Homo sapiens: one gene and its partners. The protein of the gene in region 2 interacts with the protein of the main gene of each other region in a pairwise test. Each region holds a gene or a part of one and is shown on either strand. Other genes may lie near its edges. The genes, in order: ATL1, PEX7, CFAP298 and ACAT1.

Region 1 (7,034 bases), on a different chromosome or scaffold from region 2:
TGTATTTAAGGAAATTAATGTTTTCATGCCTGCTAACACAATATCCATTCTACAGCCCAGGATCAAGGAGTAATTTTGACTTTCAAAAGTTAATAAGAAATACATTTTGTAAGGCTATAGCTGCCATAGATAGTGATTCTTTTGATGGATCTGGGCAAAGTACATTGAAAACCTTCCAGGAGAAATTCACCATTCTGGATGCCATGAAGAGAATCTGTGGTTTATAGGAGGCAAAAATATCAACAAGAATGTGGAAAAAGTTGATACCAACCCTTCTGGATGACTTTGAGAGGGGTCCAAGACTTCAGTGGAGGAAGGAAGTGCATGTGTGGTGCAAACAGCAAGAGAACTTAAAAGTGGAGCCTGAAGATGTGACTCAATTTTGTATTCTCTTAACGGATAAGGAGTTGCTTCCTATGGATAAGCAAAGACAGTGGTTTCTGGAGATGGAATCTACTCCTAGCGAAGATGCTGTGAACAGTGTTGAAATGACAACAAAGGGTTTAGAATATTTTTTATTGGTACATAATAGATGTACATATTTTTGGAGTACATATGATAAATTGATACATCCATATAATGTGTAAAGATCAAATCAGGGAAAGTGTGGTATTTATCACCTTAATATTTCTTTATGCTAGGAACATTCGAATTATTCTCTTCTGGCCATTTTGAAATGTACAGTAGATTATTGCTAATTACAGTCACCCTACTGAGCTATTGAACACTGTCTTATTTCTTCTAACTGCTTTATTTGTACCCATTAATCAACCTCTCTTCATCCCCTTCCCCCTACTCTTTTCCTTTCCAGGGCTTTAAAATATGAAATAAAGTTAGTTGATAAAGCATTGGCAGGGTTAGAGAGGATTGACTCCAATTTTTAAAGAAGTTCTACTATGAGTAAAATGCTGTCAAATGGCATCCCAGGCTACAGAGAAATCTTTCATGAAAGGAAGTCTATCAATATGGCAAACTTTACTGTTGTCATATTTTAAGAAATTGCCACAGCCACCTCAACCTTCAGCAACACCACCCTAATCAGTCAGCAGCCATCGACATCGAGGCAAGAGCCTCCACCAGCAAAAAGATTGATGTGCTGAAGGCTCAGATGATCCTTAGCATTTTTTGCAATAAAGTGTTCTTAAATTATGTACATGGTTTTTAGATATGCTACTGCACACTTTACTAGACTGCTACATAATGTAAACATAACTTTTATATGAATTAGGAAATAAAAAAAATCATGTGACTTGCTTATTGCAGTGGTCTGGAACCAAACATGTATTATCTCTGAGGCATGCCTGTAACCAAAGTGAATGGTATGGTTAACTGAGATTACCCTTGTAACTTTTCAAAAAATTGAAAATGTTATTCAAGAACATTTAATATACTCCTAACTTAGTTTCTGGAAGAAAATACTCAATTGGCTCCATTCAAATAAAAATCAGTAAAACTGCTAAAGAATGTATTTCACAGTTTACTTTGAGAGCTTTATAGCATTGATCATTGTTTATTAAACCTCATTGGTTAACATGACTTCAGTGTAGTTAGATTTCCTAGAATTTGGATATACGTAGTTTTCTTAGATTTGGATTCATTCTGTGAATGAACTCAGTTTGCACTTCATGTTGTGTCACACGTCTTTTCATCTTGAAGGACTTGGATTAAGTGATAAATATTATTTTCCATGTCAAAAAGAGAAAAATTTAAAATGATTTTAAGCCACCTATAAAATACCAGTCCCATTTATAGTCATGCCTCGTGGATAGGGGGTGGAAAGATGTGGGCTGACAAAACATATATGCAGGCTCCTGATTATTAACGTATTCTAACAAACTCAACTAGCTAAGTGAAAAATTTTGATACAGTTGCCAATTTTACTCTGCATTGCATAAACAAATACTTCTCTATCTGATACAGATTTGTGGTGGTGACAAACCATTTCTGGCCCCAAATGACTTGCAGACCAAACACCTGCAACTTAAGGAAGAATCTGTGAAGCTATTCCGAGGGGTGAAGAAGATGGGTGGGGAAGAATTTAGCCGGCGTTACCTGCAGCAGTTGGAGAGTGAAATAGATGAACTTTACATCCAATATATCAAGCACAATGATAGCAAAAATATCTTCCATGCAGCTCGTACCCCAGCCACACTGTTTGTAGTCATCTTTATCACATATGTGATTGCTGGTGTGACTGGATTCATTGGTTTGGACATCATAGCTAGCCTATGCAATATGATAATGGGACTGACCCTTATCACCCTGTGCACTTGGGCATATATCCGGTACTCTGGAGAATACCGAGAGCTGGGAGCTGTAATAGACCAGGTGGCTGCAGCTCTGTGGGACCAGGTAAGAACACCTTTAATTCACAACTAAATTCAGCACACATTTGAATGTCATCCATGTGCCAGCCACTGCATTAGATGTTGGAAATACAGATCAACAGGAATTGGGCCCCAGTCATCAAGAATGTTATGACCTGCCCAGATACAAGCAACTAACTATATAATACTGTGTAAAATGTGAAGTCCTACACAACTATTTTCCAGTTAACATTTCAGCATTTAAAAAAATATACATCAGTTTAGTAGTATATATACTTTTTTTTCTTTTTTTGGGTAGGGGGGCAGTCTTGCTCTGTCATCTAGGCTGGAGTGCAGTGGCGTGATCTCAGCTCACTGCAACCTCCGCCTCCCAGGCTCAAGCAATTCTTGTGCCTCAGCCTCTCGAGTAGATGGGACTACAGGTGCATACCACCATCCCCAGCTAAGTTTTTGTATTTTTTGTAGAAACGGGGTTTCACCATGTTGGCCAGGCTGGTCTCAAACTCCTGACCTCAAGCAATCTGCGCGCCTCAGCCTTCCAAAGCGTTGGGATTATAGGCGTGAGCCACCCAGCCTACTTTTTATTATTCTAAAAATGTTATATCTATTAAAAGTTGTAAGAGACAACAGCTTTTATTTAGCTAATTATGACTTGTGTTAACATTATCTCATATTTACAACCTATGATTTGATTAGCATTAGCTTTGTTAGGAGCTATCTGAACCACTATCATAAGTTGTCATATCATTCTCTTTTTTAGTTAAAAACTTCCAAAAGCAGTATCAGATTACTTCAGATTGTCTCTGTACCTGTAGGCAGCAGGTAATAGCTACAATTCTTCCAGCATTAAGAACATACTTATGGCCAGGTGCGGTGGCTCACGCCTGTAATCTCAGCACTTTCCGAGGCCAAAGTGGGCGGATCATCTGAGGTCGGGAGTTTGAGACCAGCCTGGCCAACATGGAGAAACCCCGTCTCTACTAAAAATACAAAAATAGCCAGTCATAGTGGCGCATGCCTGTAATCCCAGCTACTCGGGAGGCTGAGGCAGGAGAATCGCTTGAACCCAGAAGGCGGAGGTTGCACTGAGCCGAGATGGCACCACAGCACTCCAGCCTGGGCAACAAGAGTGAAGCTCCATCTCCCAAAAAAAAAAAAAAAAACCCTACTTATATATACTTTATAACATAATTGTAACGTGCCTTTGAAGGATCTAGCTGAGATAAACTAGTGGTAGCACAATGGGAAATGAATGAAGTAAAAACTGGATCCTCTGAGCCACTTTCTGAAATAGTCCCTCAACCACAAAAGATTTAAGAGGGGTTGAGGTCAATGTCAAAACCCTCCTAGACTTATGTTATGCTAAAACCTATGAGGAATACAGAATTGAGTTCTTCAAAGATTCTGATAAAATATGTAATCTAAACTGAAAAATCTGCAGGAGTATCTGTTCTGAAATGCTCACAAATTAATATTGTAAGCAAAGTTGATTATAATGCTGTTAATAAAGCAGGATATATACTTTTCTTTTTTCTTTTTAATCTGCCTTTGCCACAGGGAAGTACAAATGAGGTAAGTTAAATTTTTTAAAATTCAGAGCTATGTATGTGTAAACATTATGATATTATTTTATAAACTGACTAAGCCATTAAAAGATGTCTTTATGTAGATTAGAACAATCTTTGGTGACTTCTAACATTTAAATTTGTAATTGTGAATTTTTAACATGGTCTTAAAATATTTAACTTTTTCTAGACATCATGTATGATTTGATCTACACACACACAAAAACTAAGAATTGAATATCATCAGTATTTGTTTCATGAATGTGTAGAAAACTTCAAAATTCTTAAGCTCTGAAATGGTGGACTCTGCTGTACTGCAGAGTAAAGCAAGCAGTTATGAAACCTGAGGAAATGTAACTACTGGAGGGTATTTATTTAAATGTAGCTACAACCTTTAGAAGTTGTTTTCAACTTTGGCTTTTGACTGACAGTAATACATACCACTTTAAGCAGGGCCCAGGCCAGTATGTATTCTTTCTTGGCAGACCTCAGGCCTGACCTGTAAATTAGTGTTCATTTCTCCTACCGCACATGTGCAACACTACATATCTCAGAAAAGACTCTAGGCATCCACGAAGGAATCATCTGTTACACTAAGAAAAATTACCACTCTGGAATCATTTAGGTCATTATCTTCAGGAAGCAAAGCTGATCTTGAACAACTATAGAGATAATTCTTTCCTCAGTTTCTACTGTGGCATATAATTGGATTATGTCCTCGAATCAAATACCATTTACTATTTACAAGTCAATAAGAAGTTATTTTATGCAAAATTCAGTAAGCAAGTTCATTAAAAAAGCAAAAGCAAATTTCAGCTTTGTAAATCAAAGCTTAAGAAAAAATATAAGAGAATTAGAATTAAATTGAATGCCTTAGAATCAGAATATAATGGAAAACAATACTATGTTGCACCAATATACATTCACAGATCTGAAGATGGTACCATACAGACGTAATGCCATAAGAAAATCAAGGCCAGGCGCGGTGGCTCACGCCTGTAATCCCAGCACTTTGGGAGACTGAGGTGGGCGGATCACGTTAGGTCAGGAGTTCGAGACCAGCCTGGCTAACATGGTGAGGCCCCATCTCTACTAAAAATACAAAAAATTAGCCAGGTGTGGTGGCAGGCACCTGTAGTCCCAGCCACTGGGGAGGCTGAGGCAAGAGAATAGCTTGAACCTGGGAGGAGGTTGCAGTGAGCCAAGATCGTGCCACCACTGCATTCCAGCCTGAGCGAGAGAGTGAGATTCCAACTCAAAAAGTAAAAAACAAAAACAAAAACAAAAAAAAACCAGATCCAAAGAAAGTAGGTATAGACTCACAAATGATAAAAATTAATGGAATTTCCTGGGAACAGATTACTATTTAAAGGATCTCAAGCTTTTATGCAGCTTTTAAAAATATTCAAAGACTCTTTACGAACTCCAGAACTAAATCAGACAAGTCATTTGTAACTGACTGTCAAGTATGTGAAAGTCAGAGGAGGGGATGAAATCTTAGACACTAGCTAACGGGGCCAGGAAACAAAGATATCTATGAACACTTATATAAAGCAATATACAATACACAGAGATTCCTATGATTCAAACATCATTAAAAACCCACAGAGAACAATAAGAGGTAGTTTTAAATGAGGAAAGCTTGCTGAGGTAATGTTTTTGAATAAGGTTTGTAAGATATTAGCTAAGTCACGGAAACAAGGCAAGAGCGTGTAAAGTGAAGGATCCTACTGTGCTGGGGGAAGGACACCATATGTGCTTAGCTGCATGACTGTATCAGTAAATGATGGAGAATAAAATTGGCCCCACTCAGGAAAACACTGGAAGCCCAGAAAGCAAGTAGCCTAGCTATGCATAATAGTTACTGCCAATCAGAAGTTATGAGGTCTTACAATTCATCTAAAACTGCTAATATTCACAATTTGAATTTTCAGCACACCCCTGGGGCAAAGTAGAAGCTCACTGCTCCAAGAGGTATGCAAGGTAAAAGGAAACACAGTTTGAGAATAAAACATTCACCACACAGGTCAACACACAAAAGTGTTAATGCACACATTGAGGAGTTGAAAATACTTTTGAATTTTAAGATAATAATTTATATATCGATTAAAAAAGATTTCAAATTCAACATGCTAAATTTTATACAGTACGATAAACTAAAAAGGAAAAAATTTTACATCTGTGTGTTTAATAAAATGTTTTATAATTTTGATGCTTTTATTCTAGGCTTTGTACAAGCTTTACAGTGCAGCAGCAACCCACAGACATCTGTATCATCAAGCTTTCCCTACACCAAAGTCGGAATCTACTGAACAATCAGAAAAGAAAAAAATGTAATGCAAATTTTAAGAAATACAGGTGCATGACCAATTGTCAATTAAATATTCAGTTTTATGTCTCCATGCAAACATTCAAAGTGCTTCCATCAGAACGGAGTAAAATACTAAACACCTCTGAAGACTGCAAACTGGATTAGTTCTTTTACTTCAGTGTTTAATAAGCAGATGTATGTATGCATGGTTATACTATTTTGTTAACATGTACAATTTCCTGATTTTTCTTCAAAAATGCTGTTATAAAGTATTTGTCTATTTATGATAACAGTACACGTGTTCTGCTTGAATTTACTAAATTCTACTACTGGGTTATAATTAAATCATGTGATATTCCACGTTTGGATATGCTCATTTAATTTCTACAGAAAAAATTTTAAATTATTTCACATTAGCCATTTGTTAAAACACAGCATCATAACTCAGCAGGCTGGATTTAATCTGTATCATCTTATATATATCACAATCTTATTTTTAAGCACATTTTAGAGTTCCTTAGTTGCTTTATCAAAAACCAGATATTGCTTTTACATGGTTTAATAGAATATAAACCTCTTGATAAAAAATGCACAAAAAATCACTTTGTATATGTGAGTTTCACTGCATTGTATATTTTTTCATTTGGTACACAAAGAATGTATTCTTCATAGGTTTATTCTTTTAATATGTGAACTATTATTAAAGTTTACTCTGGTTCCTAAGATTAAAAACAAATGCTTACTGAATTTGAAAATGAGAGGTGCTGATATAGAATGATGAAGGTTTATCTCTTTTTTTAGACTCAAGATGCATTTTATTTAATGTTGACA
Region 2 (4,877 bases):
TTTTTCTTACCTTATTATTATTTTCTTTATTGTTAGCTTGCTTAAATTTGTAGAACCAGATAGGGCTTAATTAACAAATAGAGGAATACTATTTTCATCAATTTGAATTAATCTATTCATAATTCTATATCATTGCAGTTTTAGATCTATCTTAATCCAATTAAGTATAGATTTATGAACATTTGCTGAATCAGTGGCCTTGACATTTGGTAGTTATTATAAGTCCTGAATAAATAAGAAGCTGGATTGGAGAGTGCCGAATAAGGTTTCAGAAACATAATTTATAGATACCTTGCACTAGAAACCTAAGTCTTATTTCTCTGATTCTCTTCTCTCCAGTAGCGGATGCTTAACATGTGGGAAGGCCCAGCACTTGAAAAAAATAGGCATAGATGAGACAGGGGTAATTTAACATAATGATCTTTGTGTCCTATGGTATAAAAACTGAAAACTGCAAGATTAGGCAAATAATGGTTTTCAGTTTGCCTTTTCTATGAGGCACTGTTTTAGTGGATACATTCAACAGGTTTAGGTTCTGGCTGTAGCTCTGCTACTCTATTGTGAACATGAGGACAGAGTTAACCTCTGAAATTGTAATCTATGAAATTAATTTGTTGAGCCAATATTCATTGAGTTATGTTCTAATAAGACATGGTCCATGCCCTCAAAGAGCTGAAGACAACTCTTTGTCTTCAGTTGGGAAAATAAGTACAATCAAGTATTATGGGTACAATGAATGACTTCATAGAGGAGATGATACCTAAACTGATTTTTTAAAAAAGAGACATCTCTGGCAGAGCAAGGCAAAGGGGACAGAGGAGCAGACAGAAAGGGAGGGAGAAGAGGAGTTATTAAAGGGAAGCGATCAGTAAAGGAACAAGAGCGAAGAGGCATAAGCAGCATGCTTGGATTTGAGGTGTGAGCCCGGTGCAATGAGAAATGAAATGGGAACAACCAGATCTTGAAGAGTGAGGTTTTTAAATTTAAAAGTTTGACTAAAAAGTCTATAATGCTCTCTGTAGCTTGGATTCTGATCTCAGAATATTGGTAGTGAATGATTGGCTATCACTATTCAAAATTAGTGATAGCCAAGAAATTACATTAGTCAAAACGAGGTTTCTCTTGTGTAATTTTCAGCCTTTGTAATAAGCATGAAAGGCTGGGAAATGGAGTGCAAATACTTTTGGTCAAAAGCACTCTCTTGCTACTTCATCTTTCATTTTACTGCCTACCTTGTTTCTTTTCTTCTTTTTTTTAAATTGTGGAAAATTTTGAAAACATACAAAGTAACAGAATCAGATAACGAACTTCATTACTTAGCTTGAACAACTATCAACATTCTTATTTTATTTATTCCTGTACTCTCACACATCGTTTAGTTATCGCTAACATTATTTTTACTATTTTTAGGTATAATTCACATATATTGAAATTTACAAATCTTAGATATACATTTTTGACAAATAGATACGTCTGTGAAATTCACATCATCCCAGTTATTGGAAACTGGGAAAGCCCCCAGTTTCCTTTTTACCCCTTTCCAATCTCCCCTATCCCCACCCTTCCCTCCAGGTGAGAAGAGTAACATTGTTCTGACTTTTTGTTTGTTTGTTTGTTTACCTTAGATGAGTTTTGCCTGTCTTAGAATTCTATAAGGAACTCTTCTGTATGTCCTCACTTGTTTCTGGCCTCTTACCTGTGAGCTTCACCCGTGGTACTGAGCCTGTTAGCAATTCCTCCCTTTGTTTTGCTGAGCACATGCTGTTGTATGAATTTACTACAATTTGTTACCGATTCTTTTGTTAGTGGGTATTTTGGTTGTTTTCCTTTTTTTTTAGACAGAGTCTCACTCTGTTGCCTAGGCTGGAGTGCAGTGGCATGATCTCGGCTCACTGCAACCTCTGCCTCCCAGGTTGAAGCGATTCTCCCACCTCAGCCTCCCTAGTAGCTGGGATTACAGGTGCACACCACCACACCTGGCTCATTTTATGTATTTTAGGTAGAGGTGGGGTTTCACCATGGTGCCCAGGCTGGTCTCAAACTCCTGACCTGAGGTGATCCATCTGCCTCAGCCTCCTAAAATGCTGGGATTACAGGTATGAACCACTTTGCCCAGCCTTGTTTTCGATTTTTTGCTATCGTGAATGAAGTTGCTATGAACATTCGTGTCTACATTGTTTTGCAAACATATGTTTTCATTTTTCTTGGACAAATATCTGGGAGTGGAATTACTGGGTCAAAAGATAGGTATGTGTTTAACTTGGTAAGAAACGGCCAAATTGTTTTCCAAAATGGTGGTACCATATACCTTCCCTACCAGCAATGTATGTGATCACAGCTGTTCCACATCCCTGCTGACATTTGGTGTTGTCAATCTTTAATTTTAGCCATAATGTGAATATATGGTGGTATCTCATTGTCATTTTTATTTGCATTTCCCTAATCCCTAATGATGTTGAGCACTTTTTTATGTGCTTACTTTTGCCCATCATTTTTCATTAGATTGCCTTTTATTATTGAGTTGTATTGGTTCTTTATGTATTCTTGATACAAGTTGTCAGGTGTATATTTTATGAATATTTTATATAACTGTGTCTTGCCTGTTCATTTTCTTAACAGTGTCTTTTGATGAGCAAAAGTTTTATTTTTGATTGAGTGTAACTTACCAAATTTTTGATTATTACTTTTTGTATCCCTAAGAAATCTTTACTTACCTCTGTATTGAGAATATATTTTCCTTTTTTTTTTTCTGAAAGTGTTATACAGTTTGCTTTTATATTTAGGTCTGTGGTGCATCTCAAATTCATTTTTATGTGCAAAGTTGGGGTCAGGATTCACTTTTTTCCCTATGGATATTCAGTTGTTCTGCCACCATTTATTGAAAAGACTATTTTTTCCTTTTGCTCTTTAATTGTTTTGGTACCTTTGTTGAAAGCCATTTGTCCAAGTGTGGGGCCTATTTCTGAACTCTGTTCTCTTCCTTTGATCTACTTGTCTTTATCCTAATCCTGCACAGTCTTGATTACAGTAGTTTCGTGCTGAGTCTGGAAGTCAGCTAGTGTTAAGTAGTGCAGCTTTGTTTCATTTCAAGATTCTTTTGGCTAAGTCCTGGCATTTCCACATAAATTTTAAAAATTGCCTCATCCATTTCTATTAAAAAACGAGTATATAGAAACACAGTGGTTTTCATATATTAATTTTATACCCGGAGACATTGCTATATTCACTAAGTTTTTAATGCATAGTTCCTGAACACCCTGGACTTTCTTCCCTTCATGTTTTCCTATGGCTCTGTAGATGTGAATGTCCTTGTCTTTTATGTCTGCCTCCTACAGAGGTCCAGTGGGAATGCCATGGCATTGTGAAGTTGTCTGACACTGTCCCAGCTGGAATCATATAGTCCCCCTAAGAGTCTCTGTTAGTGCACCTTCCACACTCAGTCTTGAATGAGCCATTTTTTGAAGGCAAGAGCTTTACTTTATCTTCCTCTCCAGTCCCACAATATTGAGCACAGCATCTTGTTCACAGTCTGGAACGTATCTTTTCGACATTTATATCAGATAGTAGGGAATTATGTAGCTGTTGGGTGAAGTGAAGGTGGGGGACATTCTTATAGGAAACCTCAGTCAATTGAAATATACCAATTGGAATATACTCAATCAATGGGAATCAGTTGGAATACCCTGAGGTATATCCTAAAAAGGGAATATGGACCTTTTATCAAAAACGTAGCCCTATGTTTTCCCTATTCAAAAATATGTTTACTAGTGGATGATTTACGACACTCTAAATGACTTGAGTTTTTGCTGTCAATTTTGAATTTTTGTATGTCTAAATACGTTTCTTCTTACTTCATTTTTGTTTTCTAGGTGGCTGACTGTTCTTGGGATGAAACAATAAAGATCTATGACCCTGCTTGTCTTACTATTCCTGCTTGAGATACACTACTTTGGTCAGAAACAGAGGATGTTGGCTGAAGAACTGCCTAACAGCAAATAAATTAACTATGGAAAACATAGACATTATGCTTTTATATGCTATTCAGATTTCAAATCTTTCCAATTTACCCTGGAATCAGTTTTGAGGGAGCTGATAAAGACTTTAGCTGACTCGTTAAGCCTGATACATAAGCCATATTTAAAATTCTAAGAAATAATTAATGTTATGATATATCTTGTAGTATCTATTAAAATGTCTCTGGGTCATAAAATGGATTAAAATATGGGAGATCAGTAGGTTATACTTATATAGATAGTGATATATTTCATTTTTAATTTGTCATTTTTGATGTAAAATATAATCACTGCTGTGATAAATAAACTATCTATTGATCATTTATCATTTTATAACTTCCCCCAAAAGACTGCTCTTTCTAATACATTGTATATGTGAATATAGTACTATATATAATATAGATATATCTGTGGTTCAGTAACAGGACACTAGAATATATTTAATTTATTCTTTTATTTAGTAGCTGTTTATTGAGCATCTACTCAGTGCTTGACACATAGACTCAATGAGATTCTGTCAAGGACTGGTGCCATGTTTTTAAGAACATGGAATGCTGTGAGCTAAGAGCTTACTTTTTTTTTTTTCTTAGAATTTATTCACACATTTTTAGATATTGTACCCATGACTCTATAATTTTGTCTTCCCACTTCTCTAATATCAAAATTTTTTTAAACTGTCAATTAAACAAAAAGTTTTAGGTCCTACTAAGGCTTCTAGCTTTTGCCCTTGAAACCAGGCCTAAGTACAGCTATACGTGCTCCTTGCCACCTCCCTAAGTTTTCTTGAAAAAGCTCTAGGTGCAGATGAACTGAAAAAAACAAAAAAAGTTGGTTAAAGAGGAAAAATCAGCAAAACAAACTACT
Region 3 (7,357 bases), on a different chromosome or scaffold from region 2:
TAAAGAGCAAGACAAAAGCTTCCTTTATCTACCTAATTCATCCTAGATTAGAGTTTTACCAAAGGAGCTACAGAGTACAGTATTTTGTAAGTCTGTAGAGAAATGACGAGGTCAATTTTTAAACGTAAAGAACTGCTTTCTCACACCTGTAATCCCAGCACTTTGGGAGGCCGAGACCGGCAGATCATCTGAGGTCACGAGTTCGAGACCAGCCTGGCCAACATGGCAAAACCCCGTCTCTACTAAAAATACAAAAATTAGTCAGGTGTGGTGGCACATGCCTGTAGTCCCAGCTACTCAAGAGGCGGAGGCAGGAGAATCGCTTGAACCTGGAAGACAGAGGTGGCAGTGAGCTGAGATTGTGCCACTGCACTCCAGCCTGGGCTAGAGCAAGAATCCGTCTCAAAAAAAAAAAAAGGAACTGTTTTCATACTTATGCCTGTATCAAGCATGCACATAGAAGAGAAATCCTCACTTACCTTGCCCATTCCTTCGTCCAATATCATCCTTTTTAAACACTGCACCTCCGCTGGGTACGCATTTTTCACCCCATTCATCCTTCAATTTCAATTCTTCAATCTGATCATCGGTCAGTCCTTGCATATTAGGAGGGAGAAATATGCCATGTTCGGCTAATTCTTCCATTTCTTAAAAATAAGTGAAAGACAGTATCACAATCATAACACCTCATACCCCATTGGAATGTAAGCTCCAAAGAGTCAGGGGTCTTGCCCATCTGGCTCACTATTTTATGGAACAAACATTTATATGCCACTTGCTATGTGCCAGACCTGGCCTGGGCCTTTGACACGGGGGCATGGTACTGGTCTTATTCATCCTTGTCTTTTTTTTCTTTGAGACAGGGTCTCCCTCTGTCACCCAGGCAGGAGTGCAGTGGCGCGATCTCAGCTCACTGCAGCGATCTCAGCTCACTGCAGCATTGCCTCCCGGGTTCAAGCGATTCTCACGCCTCAGCCTCCCGAGTAGCTGGGACAACAGGCATGTGTCACCACGTTTTGTATTTTTAGTAGAGACTGGGTTTCACCATGTTGCCCAGGCTAGTCTAGAACTCCTAGGCTCAAGTGATCCGCCCGCCTCAGCCTCTCAAAGTGTCAGGATTACCCGTGTGAGCCACCACGCCCGGCCCCATCCTTGTCTTCTGAAGGCTGAGCACTGGTGCAGAATAAATACATGAATTTTCAGTTCACTAATGTGACTCTTAGCATTCAGCACATTTCCAATTTATAACGTTATAGGAAAAGAAGATGAATTCCTTTTCTCCTCAAATGCTTTAACTTAAAAATAACATTTAATATTGAGTTTGTGTTGGAACCTCAATTAAGAAACTACACATAAGTTTCATGAAAAGAACCATGACCCTCAGGAATTTCTCCACGGTGCAAAACTCACATATTCATATAATGTAATCAATACATTTCATAATAAATCACATATTCATGCAATTTAATAAATCACATAAATGAATATACTATTTATTGCAAATAGTTACGTTTGTATATTCTATATATACACGATAGTTATATAAACAGTAATATCCTAGACCACATCAGGAAGTATCATCCCGTCAAGTTCAAAAACTATGCTGTCTAATGCGGCAGCTACTCGCTCCACTTGGCGATTTAAATTTATTTAAATTAAAATGACCCAGACGCGATGGATCACACTTGTAATCCTAGCACTTTGGGAGGCGGAGGCAGGCGGATCACCTGAGGTCAGGCGTTCGAGACCAGCCTGGCCAACATGATGAAACCCCGTGTCCACTAAAGATACAAATATTAGCTGGGCGTGGTGGTGGGCGCCTGTAATCTCAGATACTTGGGAGGCTGAGGCAGGAGAATAGCTTGAACCCGGGAGGCGAAGGTTGCAGTGAGCAGAGATCGCGCCACTGCACTCCAGCCTGGGCAACAGTAAGACCCTGTCTCTCACACACACACATACCATATATATATATATATATATAATTTATTTATATTTATATATACATATATATAATTTATTTATATTCATATATACTATATATATGGTATTTATTTATATTTATATATATTTAATTAATTAAAATGCAAATGTAAAATTCGGTTGCCTGGCCGCACTAGCCACATTCCAAATGCTCTACGGCCACAAGTGGCCGGCAGCTGCCCAATGGACAGCACAGATGGGGGCCCTTCCACCGCCGGAAAGTTCTGCGGCAAAGCGGGTGCCCTGGAACCTGCGCGGGGTAGGGAGACGGCGCCGCAACGCAACAGGCCGTTTCCAGGGCGGGGAAAGATCACCAAGGCTTCCTCAACTGTAAGGGGCCGTCCCAAAGCCAGGTGGCTCGCTGCTTTACATTGGGCGACTAAAAATAGTAAATTCAGCTTTTAAAAGCCCACCTAGTTCTCATCTCACCCCTCACACGTGATTAATTGCACTAAGTCTGCTGTTCAGCCCGGCCTTTCGGCTCCCTCCTCCCTCCCCAGCCCATTTCCACTTATTCGCAGCACCCCAAATCCTGGCTCCGAGAGGCACCTGGGCCCACCTCCCAGCCCGGGGTGTCAGACAGGCCGGATCTTCTCCGGTTCCTTATTCATCTCCGGTTAACCCTAGTGTCCCGTTTCAACCCCGGCTGCTGCAAATCTCTTCAATAATCTTCACAAACCTGACCCCTCGGCCCACCCTGCCCCTCTTTCTCCATCCCACGCCGGTCTCTCGATCTGTCCGGGATGGGCCCACCCGCGAGCCGCACCTGAGCAGAGGCGCTGCACCTTGAGCCGCCCATTATAGACCCGGGCCACCTGCACCGTGAGCTCCTCCAGCTCGGTACTCCCAGGCGCCTGCAGCAGGAACTGGCTCTCGTCGCCCCGCTTCACGTGCAGCAGAACCATGGCGGTCCCGCCGAGGTACTGAGGCGTTGAGAAGGCCCCGGCTGCGTGGCCCGCGGGTCCTGCCGGCCGAGGGTCGCCGGATCGCCAGCAGCTGCGACGCACTAACAGCCGCTCACAGTCCGGAATCCCACGCTCCCTAGCCCGCGGTGAGCGGGGGAAACGGCACTCGCTCCCGGAAGTGGATGTTGCCAAGAGCAACAGTGAAGCAGAGTTAAAGAGCCGCCAGCTCAAGCTCAGAACCCGAGTGGGGGAGGCTGGGGTGCACCGAGGCCCAGCAATCCAAGCCCGTACGGAGCTGCGGCCGGGGAAACCACCCACACAGTCTGAGAGGACAGCTGATTCTGAGCGGACCGACGGAAGGAGATTCGCAGAGCCCCTTCCCGGAAGTGACTGTTGTCGCGGCAACTGCCAAAACACAGACCAAGTCGCTGAAGGGGAGGGCGGACCTCCCAATCGACTGGTCTGGGGCCCGAGATTTCCACTCAGGGAGATACGTGGGCTGAGATGGGAGTTACTAGATGGGGAACGGGAAATACGGCGGGAACCACAATCGCGCAGTTCCGCAGCTGCCGCCCCACAACCGCTCCACATTCCAGCGTCCCTTCCGCCGCTTTCAGTCTCCACTTCCGGCAACGTTTCCACGCTGTTTCCGGCCTGGGAAAGTTCGGCGGCAGCGACCCAGAACTGAGTCTTGCTGTTCGCTGCTGTTTGCGCGGGTCAGCTTTTCAGGACGGAGGGGCCAGGGCGAGTGTCCGCACTTCTTCGTTCAGGTTGATTTGGATGGCGTTGCTGGGGTAGCTCCAGCGGCCCCTGCCAGAGCGACCCTCCCAGAAATATCCAGCCATCCTCCAGCGGACTCTTGCTGAAGGCAGTCGGCGTCAGTCGCTGTTTATTCCGGGCCCCACAGATCCAGAGTCACTGCTCTCATGGAGCTTATATTTTAGTGTGACAAAAAGAAAACAAAAATAAATGGACAGGCCAGGAGCGGTGGCTCACGCGTGTAATCCCAACACTTAGGGAGGCCGAGGAGGGCGGATCACCTGAGGTCAGGAGTTCGAAAGCAGCCTGGCCAACATGGTGAAACCCCTTCTCTACTAAAAATACAAAAATTAGCCGAACGTAGTGGCGCGTGCCAGTAATTCCAGCTACTAGGGAGCCTGAGGTGGGAGAATTGCTTGAACCCGGGAGGCGGAGGTTGCAGTGAGCCTAGATCGCGCCACTACCCTCCAGCCTTGGCGACAGAGTGAGACTGTGTCTCAAAAATAATAAATAAACAAACGGACAACACAAATTCAAATACAGATCTAAAGAAAACTAAACAGGTTGATGGACTTCTTATGTTTGATGGTCAGGGAATGTACACCTTCTGCGATATTGGGAGTAATATTATCGTCTCCCGCCCTGAATATTTAGAAAAATATCACAGTGGGGTGTACACCCCTGCGATATTGAGAGTAATGTCATCCTCTCCACCCAGGAAATTACTAACAAGGTCACGGAGGGGTGTACTCCCCCTGTGATATTGGGAGTAATGTTTTCCTCCCCAAACCTGGATGTTAGCAACAAGATAACAGAGGGGGTGTACACACCCTGCGATATTGGAAGTAATATGATCCTCTCCCCCCCGGATACTGGGAAAAATATCACAGCGCGGGTATACATTTCCTTCGCTGTTGGGAGTAATATCATTCTTTTCCTCTCTGGATATCAGGAACAATATCACAGGGGTGGTGTACATTTCCTTCGATATGGGGAGTAATATCATCCTCTCCCCGTTGGGATACTAGGAACAATATCCCAGGGGGGTGTCCACCCTCTGCGATATTGGGAGTAATATCATCCTCTGTTTCCCCGGATATTAGACACAATATCACAAAAAAGTGTACACCCCCTGCGATATTGGGAGTAATATCATACTCTCCTTCCCTGGATATTAGAAAACAATATCATCAGGGGTGAGCACCCCCTGCGATAATGGAAGTAATATTTTCTCTTTTTTTCTTTTCTTTTTTTTTTTTTTTTTTTTTTAACAGAGTTTCACTCTTGCTGCCCAGGCTGGAGTGTAATGGCATGATCTCGGCTCACTGCAGCCTCTGCCTCCCGTATTCAAGCGATTCTCCTGTTTCAGCCTTCCAAGTAGCTGGGATTACAGGCATGCGCTACCATGCCCGGCAATTTTTTTTTTTTTTTTTTTTTTTTGTATTTTTAGTAGAGACAGTGTTTCTCCATATTGGTCAGGCTGGTCTTGAACTCCCGACCTCAGGTGATCCGCCTGATTCAGCCTCCCAAAGTGCTGAGATTACAGGCGTGAGCGATCGCGCCCAGCCACCACTTAGCATTTTCATTTTACATTTGTTGAAGTTACAGATTTATACACACATTGATTGCTGCTTTATTATACACTTGCATATACATAAAATGGGAAATAGAAAAGAATAAAATGGGCACAATATCCCTAAAGTTTCACATTCCGAAACATTTTTTAAATATTTGCTTTTTAGAAATTTGTTTCAATTAAGAAACTGCGGTATACACACACAATGAAGTATTATTCAGCCTAAAAAGGAATAAAATCCTCTCCGCTGCAGAAAAAATGGATGAGATTGCAGGTCTGTATGTTAAGTGAAATAAGCCAGGCACAGAATGACAAATATTACATGTCCTCACTTATACGTAGGAACAAAAAAGAAAATCTTGGCCAGGTGGCTCAGGCCTGTAATCCCAGCACTTTGGGAGGCCGAGTTGCACGGATTACTTGAGGCCAGGAGTTTGAGAGCTGCCTGGCTAACATGGTGAAACCCCGTCTCTACTAAAAACACAAACAATTAGCCAGGCGTGGTGATGCGTGCCTGTAGTCTCAGCTACTCGGAAGGCTGAGGCCCAAGAAGCGCTTGAACTCGGGAGGTGGAGGTTGCAGTGAGCCTGGACTGTGCCTGTATGCTCCAATCTGGGCAATGGAAAGAGACTCCATCACACACCTACAAACAAAAGGAATCTCAGGAAGGTGGAGAGTATAAAGGGGGTTAGCAGACGCTAGGAAGAAAAGGGGTGGATGGGGAATGAGGAGAAGTGGATAATTGGGTCCCAAAATACAGAAAGATGGAGTAAGTGAGTTCTAGTGTTTGATAGTACAGTATGAAAATTTTAGTTCACAAGAATTTCTTGCATATTTCCAGATGCTTTGGTAAGAAGCTTCCTAACTTTCTCATTATGCTGGTTTTTAAGCTCTTGTCTTCTGCTCTTGAAATCATGCTGGTTTTTTGTTTTTTGTTTTGAGATGGAGTTTTGCTCTTCTTGCCCAGACTGGAGTGTAACAGTGCAATCTTGGCTCACCACAACCTCTGCCTCCTGGGTTCAAGTGATTCTCCTGCCTCCACCTCCTGAGTAGCTGGGATTACAGGCATGCGCCAGCATGCCCAGCTAATGTTGTATTTTTAGTAGAGACGGGGGTTTCTCCCTGTCGGTCAGGCTGGTCTTGATCTCCTGACTTCAGGTGATCCGCCCGCCTTGGCCTCCCAAAGTGCTGGGATTACAGGCGTGAGCGACCACGCCCGGCCCATGCTGTATCCTTATCTGTTGTTTGTTGTGGTTTGTTTGTTTTTGAGCCCAGAAATAACTTCTCACCTATGTGTTCAAATGATTTTTAACATGAGTGCTAAGAAAGCTCATTGGTGGAAAAGCAGCCTTTTCAAGAAATGGTGTTGGAGAAACTTGATTTCCACATGCAGAAGAATGAAGGTGGACCCTATGTCACACCAGGTGCAAAAATTAACACAAACTGGATCAAAGACCTAACCCCAAGTGCTAAAAGTATAATATGCCTCAAAGAAAACATTGGCCACACTTTCATGACATCAGATTGGGCAATGCTTTCTGGGATATGACACCAAAAGCATAGGCAACGAAAGAAAATTAGATTCCTTGGATTACATCTAAATGACAGACACTTTTGTGCATCAAAAAACACTGTGAACTGAGTGAAAAGATAACCCATGGATTCGGAAAAATATTTGCAAATCATATATCTGAAAAGAGGCTGATATCCATCATGTATAAAGAACAGCTAGAACTAAGCAACAAGAAACCCAAAGCATCCCATTGACAATGGTCAGAAGACTCGAGTAGACGTGTCCCTAAAGAAGATACAGCAATGGCCAATAAGCATCTAAGATGATGTTCAAAATCACTCATCATAGGGAAGCGCAAATCAAACCAATAATGTGATACCACACATTAGGATGGATATGATAAACAAGCATTGGTGAGACTAGAGGGAAGTAGGAATGCTCGAATATGATTGCAGGGAATGTAAAACCGTGAAGCAACAGTGAAAATAGTATGGCGTGTACTGGAAAAATTAGAAACAGAATTATCAGATGTTCCTGCAGTTGCATTTGTGGGTACCTACCAAAAAGAATTAGAAGCCAGGAGTGGAAGAGATATTTGTACACCCATATTCATAGCAGCATTAT
Region 4 (7,034 bases), on a different chromosome or scaffold from region 2:
GGTCTCACCACGTTGTCCAGGCTGGTCTTGAACTCCTGACCTCAGGTGATCCGTCCACCTTGGCCTCCCAAAATGCTAGGATTACAGGCATGAGCCACCACGCCTGGCCAAGACTTGGAAATTTTAAGATAGTAAACTTAAGAGTTAAAACGTACATTTCCAATGAATAGTTAATTAGAAAAGTTTATTATAAAGCAGTCATTTTTTTCTAATTGTTAAAAGTGATATATTCTGACCACAAAAAACTTGGAAATAAAAGCATAAGGATGCAGGAAGAAACCACTATAACCTTATCACTGAGAAATATAAAATGATATAGTTTAATATTTTTTACATTATAACATTATAAATATTTATATTACAGGAAATAAGATATGTGGAACGGAGTTATGTATCAAAACCCACTTTGAAGGTAAGTAATTTAAATTGTGCTTTAAAATTTCCAGAATTTAAAGGAAATGTCAATAAAAATGCATATACTTATGATTTGGATACATGTGAAAGTCAAAGCAGGATTATGTAACAGTTAGGAATAGCTAACTATTCAAATATTCAGTTAAAGTAGATGACTATAATAGAAAAACATGTCAGTTAGTCTCTGCCAATGTTTGTTGCTTCCTTATAGTCTGCTACAAAACAACATTCCCTCTAGAACTGGGCAGTGTTCTTCTTTTACTCACAGGGACTCGCATTGTATTGTGTGTGGTACAAGCAGAGACTGTATAGAAGATCCTAGAAGAGAGGGAGTGGACCAGTTGGGAATTAGACAAGGAGGGCCATTACAGCATCTCCTAGGACCTTCTGAAGAGTCTCTGTTTTGTAAGGGTCACTAAAGTGACTTAGTTAAGATCTTCTATCAAAATCTAAGCAACCATTCTGTTATTTATCTCTAAACTTAATAGGAGATTGTGGAAGACAAGTGTAAGGAGAGAACTGTCACAGTGCTGTTTTATAGTATTCAAGAGAGCTTTTATCTTCTTTTGCTTAAAGTTCATATTATTGTCTTACTGTTTAAGAAATTATGGCTCTGGGCCGGGTGCGGTGGCTCACACCTGTAATCCCAGCACTTTGGGAGGCCGAGGCAGGTGGATCACGAGGTCAGGAGATCGAGACCATCCTGGCTAACACGGTGAAACCCCATCTCCACTAAAAATACAAAAAATTAGGTGGGCATGGTGGCAGGCACCTGTAGTCCCAGCTACTCGGGAGGCTGAGGCAGGAGAATGGCGTGAATCCGGGAGGCGGAGCTTGCAGTGAGTTGAGATCACGTGCCTGCACTCTAGCCTGGGCAACAGAGCAAAACTCCATCTCAAAAAAAAAAAAAAAAAAAAAAAAAAAAGAAAAAAGAAATTATGGCTCTGGCTGGGCACAGTGGTTCATGCCTGTGATCCCAGCACTTTGGGAGGCCAAAGTGCGTGGATCACCTGAGGTTAGGAGTTCAAGACCAGCCTGGCCAACATGGCAAAACCCCATCTCTATTAAAAATACAAAAATTAGCCGGGTGTGGTTGCAGATGCCTGTAATCCCAACTACTCAGGAGGCTGAGGCAGGAGAATCACTTGAACCCGGGAGGCAGAGGTTGCAGTCAGCCAAGATCATACCACTGCACTCCAGCCTGGGTGACACAGTGAGACTCCATCTCAAATTACATATAAAAAAAGAAATTCTGGCCCTGGCTCTGTCCTAGTTAAGTGGTATTGCCCCACCTAGGATACAGGTCTTGATTCCTAGCCAGAGTTCCTTTCAGTAAGGGACCCTCTTAGAGTTGTTTATTATGCAGTTAACAAGAGTAAAGTGGCTGAGTGTGGTGGCTCATACCCTTAATCCTAGCACTTTGGTAGGCTGAGGCAGAAGGATTGCTTGAGCTGAGGAGTTTGAGCTGCAATGAGCTATGATTGTGCCACTGCATTCCAGCCTGGGCAGCTGAGCAAGACCCTGTCTCAAAAACAAAAATACAAAAACAAACAAAAAAACAAGGTACAGTGATCATTTCTTGAATTTTGACTGAGGAATAGAAAGGAAACTTAAGCTTCTGTCCTCAAACCTCCTGTAGAGAACTGGGAAGGATCTACATCTGTTTTAGAGTTGGTTTCTATAAGGTCTTAAATCATAAAGCACTAGCATTGAACTGATTATCTTGACAGCTGTTCAACTATTGAGATTAATTTTTGATGACTCATTCATAGAAGTGTTTTTTTGATAATATATTTATGTTTATTTAATGAAATACGATTTGGGTAAAATACCTATAATTTTTACCATCTTGTGTCTTGCCAGGAAGTGGTCATAGTAAGTGCTACAAGAACACCCATTGGATCTTTTTTAGGCAGCCTTTCCTTGCTGCCAGCCACTAAGCTTGGTTCCATTGCAATTCAGGGAGCCATTGAAAAGGCAGGTCAGTAGTTACTTGGCTTTTTGTGTTAAGGGAGCAAAAAGATTCCATGGAAAAGATATTTATTTTGCATTAACTATGTATGTAACACTTAGAAATAACTTAATGCCTACATTTCTGCTTTCCCTTGTAAAGAAGTCTTTGTACTATACAGTTTAGATTGAAACTCAAAACTGACAAAAAAAAGAAACCATTCCTATTGTGTAATGTCACCTACCTTATTAGGTAATCACTGATTATTAAATTGAATTAAATGCCTTTTTGACTTTTTTTTTTTTTAATAAAGGGATTCCAAAAGAAGAAGTGAAAGAAGCATACATGGGTAATGTTCTACAAGGAGGTGAAGGACAAGCTCCTACAAGGCAGGCAGTATTGGGTGCAGGTACCTGGAAGACTTTTTTGCTTTTATACTTAAAATGTGTAAAAGGGGCCGGGTGCGGTGGCTCATGCCTGTAATCCCAGCACTTTGGGAGGCCGAGGCAGGCGGATCACGAGGTCAAGAGATGGAGACCATCCTGGCCAACATGGTGAAACCCCGTCTCTACTAAAAATACAAAAATTAGCCAGGTGTGGTGGTGCACTAATCCCAGCTACTTGGGAGGCTGAGGCAGGAGCATCGCTTGAACCCAGGAGGCGGAGGTTGCAGTGAGCCAAGATTGCACCATTGCACTCCAACCTGGGCGACAGAGTGAGATTCTGTCTGAAAGAAAAAAAAAAAAAAAAAAAAAAGGCTGGGCATGGTAGCTCACGCCTGTAATCCTAGCACTTTGGGAGGCCGAGGCGGGTGGATCACGAGGTCAGGAGATTGAGACCATCCTGGCTAACACAGCGAAACCCTGTCTCTACTAAAAATACAAAAAATTAGTTGGGCGTGGTGGCCAGCACCTGTAGTCCCAGCTACTCCGGAGGCTGAGGCAGGAGAATGGCGTGAACCCAGGAGGTGGAGCTTGCAGTGAGCCCAGATCGCGCCACTGCACGCCAGCTTGGGGGACAGAGTGAGACTCCGTCTCAAAAAAAAAAAAAAAAAAAAAAAAGTATAAAATGGCAAAATGAAGGTTATTTAAGCTTAAATGAAATATTAAATGCATGATATAATTTGTAGTTATATTGGCAGAAGAAATGTTGTAGTTTATAGTAACATGCTCTATTAAGTTCTGCAGTTGTGTTTGAGTATCGGTTTTTCAAAAGTGACTTATATTGGTTTTAGGCTTACCTATTTCTACTCCATGTACCACCATAAACAAAGTTTGTGCTTCAGGAATGAAAGCCATCATGATGGCCTCTCAAAGTCTTATGTGTGGACATCAGGTAAGAAACACCGTCCTTCCCATTTATTAATCAGAGTAATACCTAGGGCTAAAAGACACAAAAATCTAGGCATATTCATATTTTAGAAATGAGATTCTTTCTCATAAGTTAGTATGTTTTCTCACATGCTCAAGAGTGTCTGGATTTGCTAAGTCCATTTGAAGTATGGTCAAAATGATAGCGTAGGCTGGGTATCATGTCTGTAAGCACTTTGGAAGGTCGAGGCAGGAGGATCCCAGGAGTTTGAGACCAGCGTAGGCAACATAGCAAGCGAGACTCTGCTCTTTGAAAAAAAAAAAAGCCTAAGTGTCTTGTGTTACAAAGTTGTTTTTAGGCCCAGGCACAGTGGCTCACTCCTATAATCCCAGCACTTTGGGAGGCTGAGGCTGGGGGCAGATCACATGGTGAAACCCCGTCTCTACTAAAAATACAAAAATTAGCTGGGCGTGGTGGCAGGTGCCTGTAATTCCAGCTACTCGGGAAGCTGAGGCACAAGAGTCACTTGCATCTGGGAGGCAGAGATTGCAGTGAGCTGAGATTGTACCACTGCACTCCAACCTGGGAGATAGAGCAAGACTCTCAAAAAAAAAAAATTGTTTTTAGTCAAGGCATTTGGGTCTTTCTCTGAGGCTGGGTGACTAAAAATTCATAAATACTGTATTTGCCAGAATAAGACAGGTTTTCATTATAAAGGAGAACACGGTGCTTAACCCTGGGAATCAAATCATTGCTTGAGCCCAGGCTTGATGACTAATTTGTAGTCATTAAGTTAAGTTCTACAGGCTTTCTAATTAGCCTTGCTGATCTATATCTTGTCTTTACTTGAGATCAAGCAAGAGACAGGCTCCTTAGCAAAAATATGCTGTCATGTCAGGAGGTGAGACCTGGACACACAGAAGAATCAAGATTCTCTCAGATCTGAGCCCTTCATTTTTCAGATGAAGATTTTTTTCAGTGTGTCTGAGACAGCCACAGAGTTACAGGGCTGAGCATCTGCCATGTGACAGTCATTGGAAATAGAGTGGTGAACAAAACATTTAAAAAAATCTGTACATGTGCAGGTCTCTGTTGGAAAAATGCCTAAAAGAAATGCTGAGTCAGGATTTGAACATTTTGGTATTTGCAAATGCTTTCCATAAAAGTTGTACCAGTTAGACTTTCCAAAAATTGTGTGACTTGTCTGGATCTGCACCACCACTGGGTGGTACCAAACCCTTGTCAAACTGGTAGGTGAAAAACGGTCACCAGATTTAGTTTCAGAACTGTTTGTCATGGAAAGTTTTGTCTTAATTGAAGTATTGTGGTTCTCTAGCAAATGCCATTTGTACTATATTGAAATACTTTCATTTAATATTATTTTATTCATTTGTGGATATATACAGTGACTTATAGGCATTCTTGGAAGTGCTTTGTTTTGAATATTTATGACCTTAGAAAACAGTCAGTTTTACTTTATAATGAAGAATTGATACCTTATTTTCTGTCACTTATTATTGCCATCACCCCCAGTAAAAAGTACAAGTGAATAAAACTTAGATGAGAACTGATTAAGAATTTCTCTATTTCGGAATAGGCAAAATATTTATGTTTCTTTGGTATAGAGCTTGCTTGTCTGTATGCCTGATTAAAGACTGTAAGAAGATATTATTGGCTTTATGTTTACATTAATGTTTTATATTAAACTGTTTTTAACTAGCCCTTATAATGCAAGTGATTTTTTTTTGTTGACTTGTAAAGTAGTAACAAGTTGATTAATATTTATTAAACTTATATATGCCAGTTGCCAAGGATGTAAAAATATGACAGGGTGTCTGGCCTCAAAGGAGCATAGTCTAGTGGGAAGACTTGACATGTAAACATATAATAATATTAAAAGCATTGCATAGTAATTGGGGAACACAAAGGAGGAGAAACTGTTTCAAGAAAGGATAGAAATAAATGGTCAAGGCAGACATGAAGTAGTGTTCTGATTAGTTTTAAGAGAAATGTAGGTGTTTTACATGTTGGTGGATGGGGAAAGTGCAGAGGTATGTGTGTGAAATGTGCATGGTGTCTCTGGAGAGCTTTAACTAGTTCCATGTGACCTGAGGTATAGGTTAGGCTGTGAGACTGAAAAAGGGGAGAGAAGGGATACTGTAAAGGCTTTATATATTATGCTGAGTTATCTAAGGTGCGAAATGATCAGACTTACATTCTAGCCAAAATGAGTCAGATGAGTGTTGATGATGCTTTGGTGGAAAGGCTGCATGTCAGAAGATCAAGTGGAAAATTATCTCAGCTGTCCAGGAAGAGATGATGAGGATCTCAGTCAAGGAAGTATGATTATTTTCATGAACTGAGATTACTTCTAATCTTCTAGAGCACATTAAATTTTTAGCAGCATGAATGAAATGAAGGGTTAGAAGTTAAGAATTTCAGGCCAGTCATGGTGGCTCACACCTGTAATCCGAGCACTTTGGGAGGCTGAGGTGGGCGGATCGCTTGAGTCTGGGAGTTTGAGACCGGCCTGGGTGATATAGTGAAACCCCATCTCTACTAAAAATATTATACAAAAATTAGCTGGGTGTGATGGTGCATGCCTGTAGTCCCAGCTACTTGGGAGGCTGAGGTGGGAGGATCACTTGAGCCCAAAAGGCAGAGATTGCAGTGAGCTGAGATCGTGCCACTGCACTCCAGCCTGGGCAACAGCGAGACCTGTCTAAAAGAAAATTTAAGAATTTCAGAAGATGGTTTTACATGAAAGATTTCTGGTATTTTTTTTTTAAAGACAGAGTCTTGCTTTGTCACCCAGGCTGAAGTGCAGTGGTGCGATCTTGGCTCACTGCAAGCTCTGCCTCCCAGGTTCACGCCATTCTCTTGCCTCAGCCTCCCGAGTAGCTGGGACTACAGGCGTGTGCCACCAAACCCGGCTAATTTTTGTATTTTTAGTAGAGATGGGGTTTCACTGTTAGCCAGGATGGTCTCGATTTCCTGACCTCGTGATCAGCCCGCTTTGGCCTCCCAGAGTGCTGGGATTACAGGGGTGAGCCACCGTGCCCAGCCAGATTTCTGGTATTCTTATTAATGTCTGGTTGTGAACTTTTGAGACAGAGCCTTGCTGTCACCCAGGCTGGAGTGCAGTGGCACGATCTCAGCTCACTGCAATCTCCGCCTCTACTTTTTTTTTTTTTCTTTTGAGGAGTCTTGCTCTGCCCCCCAGGCTGGAGTGCAGTGGCACAATCTCAGCTCACAGCAACCTCTGCCTCCCAGGTTCAAGCAATCCTCCTGCCTTGGCCTCCCGAGTAGCTGGGATTAGAAGTGCCCACCACCACACCCAGCTAATTTTTGTATTTTT

What was found.
Region 1: the proteins of PEX7 (region 2) and ATL1 interact in binary tests that used the Homo sapiens proteins (3 or more experiments, as listed by UniProt).
Region 3: the proteins of PEX7 (region 2) and CFAP298 interact in binary tests that used the Homo sapiens proteins (3 or more experiments, as listed by UniProt).
Region 4: the proteins of PEX7 (region 2) and ACAT1 interact in a two-hybrid assay, tested with the Homo sapiens proteins (one study listed by BioGRID).

The regions. Positions count from the first base shown.
Region 1 is NC_000014.9:50,626,111-50,633,144, forward strand, and holds the end of ATL1 (atlastin-1), read left to right. Parts: intron 1-1,920; coding exon 1,921-2,352; intron 2,353-3,884; coding exon 3,885-3,899; intron 3,900-6,118; coding exon 6,119-6,229; 3' UTR 6,230-6,935; downstream 6,936-7,034.
Region 2 is NC_000006.12:136,909,589-136,914,465, forward strand, and holds the end of PEX7 (peroxisomal biogenesis factor 7), read left to right. Parts: intron 1-3,869; coding exon 3,870-3,938; 3' UTR 3,939-4,346; downstream 4,347-4,877. UniProt on the Homo sapiens protein: Receptor required for the peroxisomal import of proteins containing a C-terminal PTS2-type peroxisomal targeting signal. Specifically binds to cargo proteins containing a PTS2 peroxisomal targeting signal in the cytosol.
Region 3 is NC_000021.9:32,609,359-32,616,715, forward strand, and holds the start of CFAP298 (cilia- and flagella-associated protein 298), read right to left. Parts: upstream 3,020-7,357; 5' UTR 2,886-3,019; coding exon 2,747-2,885; intron 648-2,746; coding exon 480-647; intron 1-479. Other genes in the region: CFAP298-TCP10L (uncharacterized protein LOC110091775), read right to left, coding at 480-647, 2,747-2,885. UniProt on the Homo sapiens protein: Plays a role in motile cilium function, possibly by acting on outer dynein arm assembly. Seems to be important for initiation rather than maintenance of cilium motility.
Region 4 is NC_000011.10:108,131,543-108,138,576, forward strand, and holds part of ACAT1 (acetyl-CoA acetyltransferase, mitochondrial isoform b precursor), read left to right. Parts: intron 1-364; coding exon 365-412; intron 413-2,277; coding exon 2,278-2,395; intron 2,396-2,678; coding exon 2,679-2,774; intron 2,775-3,599; coding exon 3,600-3,700; intron 3,701-7,034. UniProt on the Homo sapiens protein: This is one of the enzymes that catalyzes the last step of the mitochondrial beta-oxidation pathway, an aerobic process breaking down fatty acids into acetyl-CoA.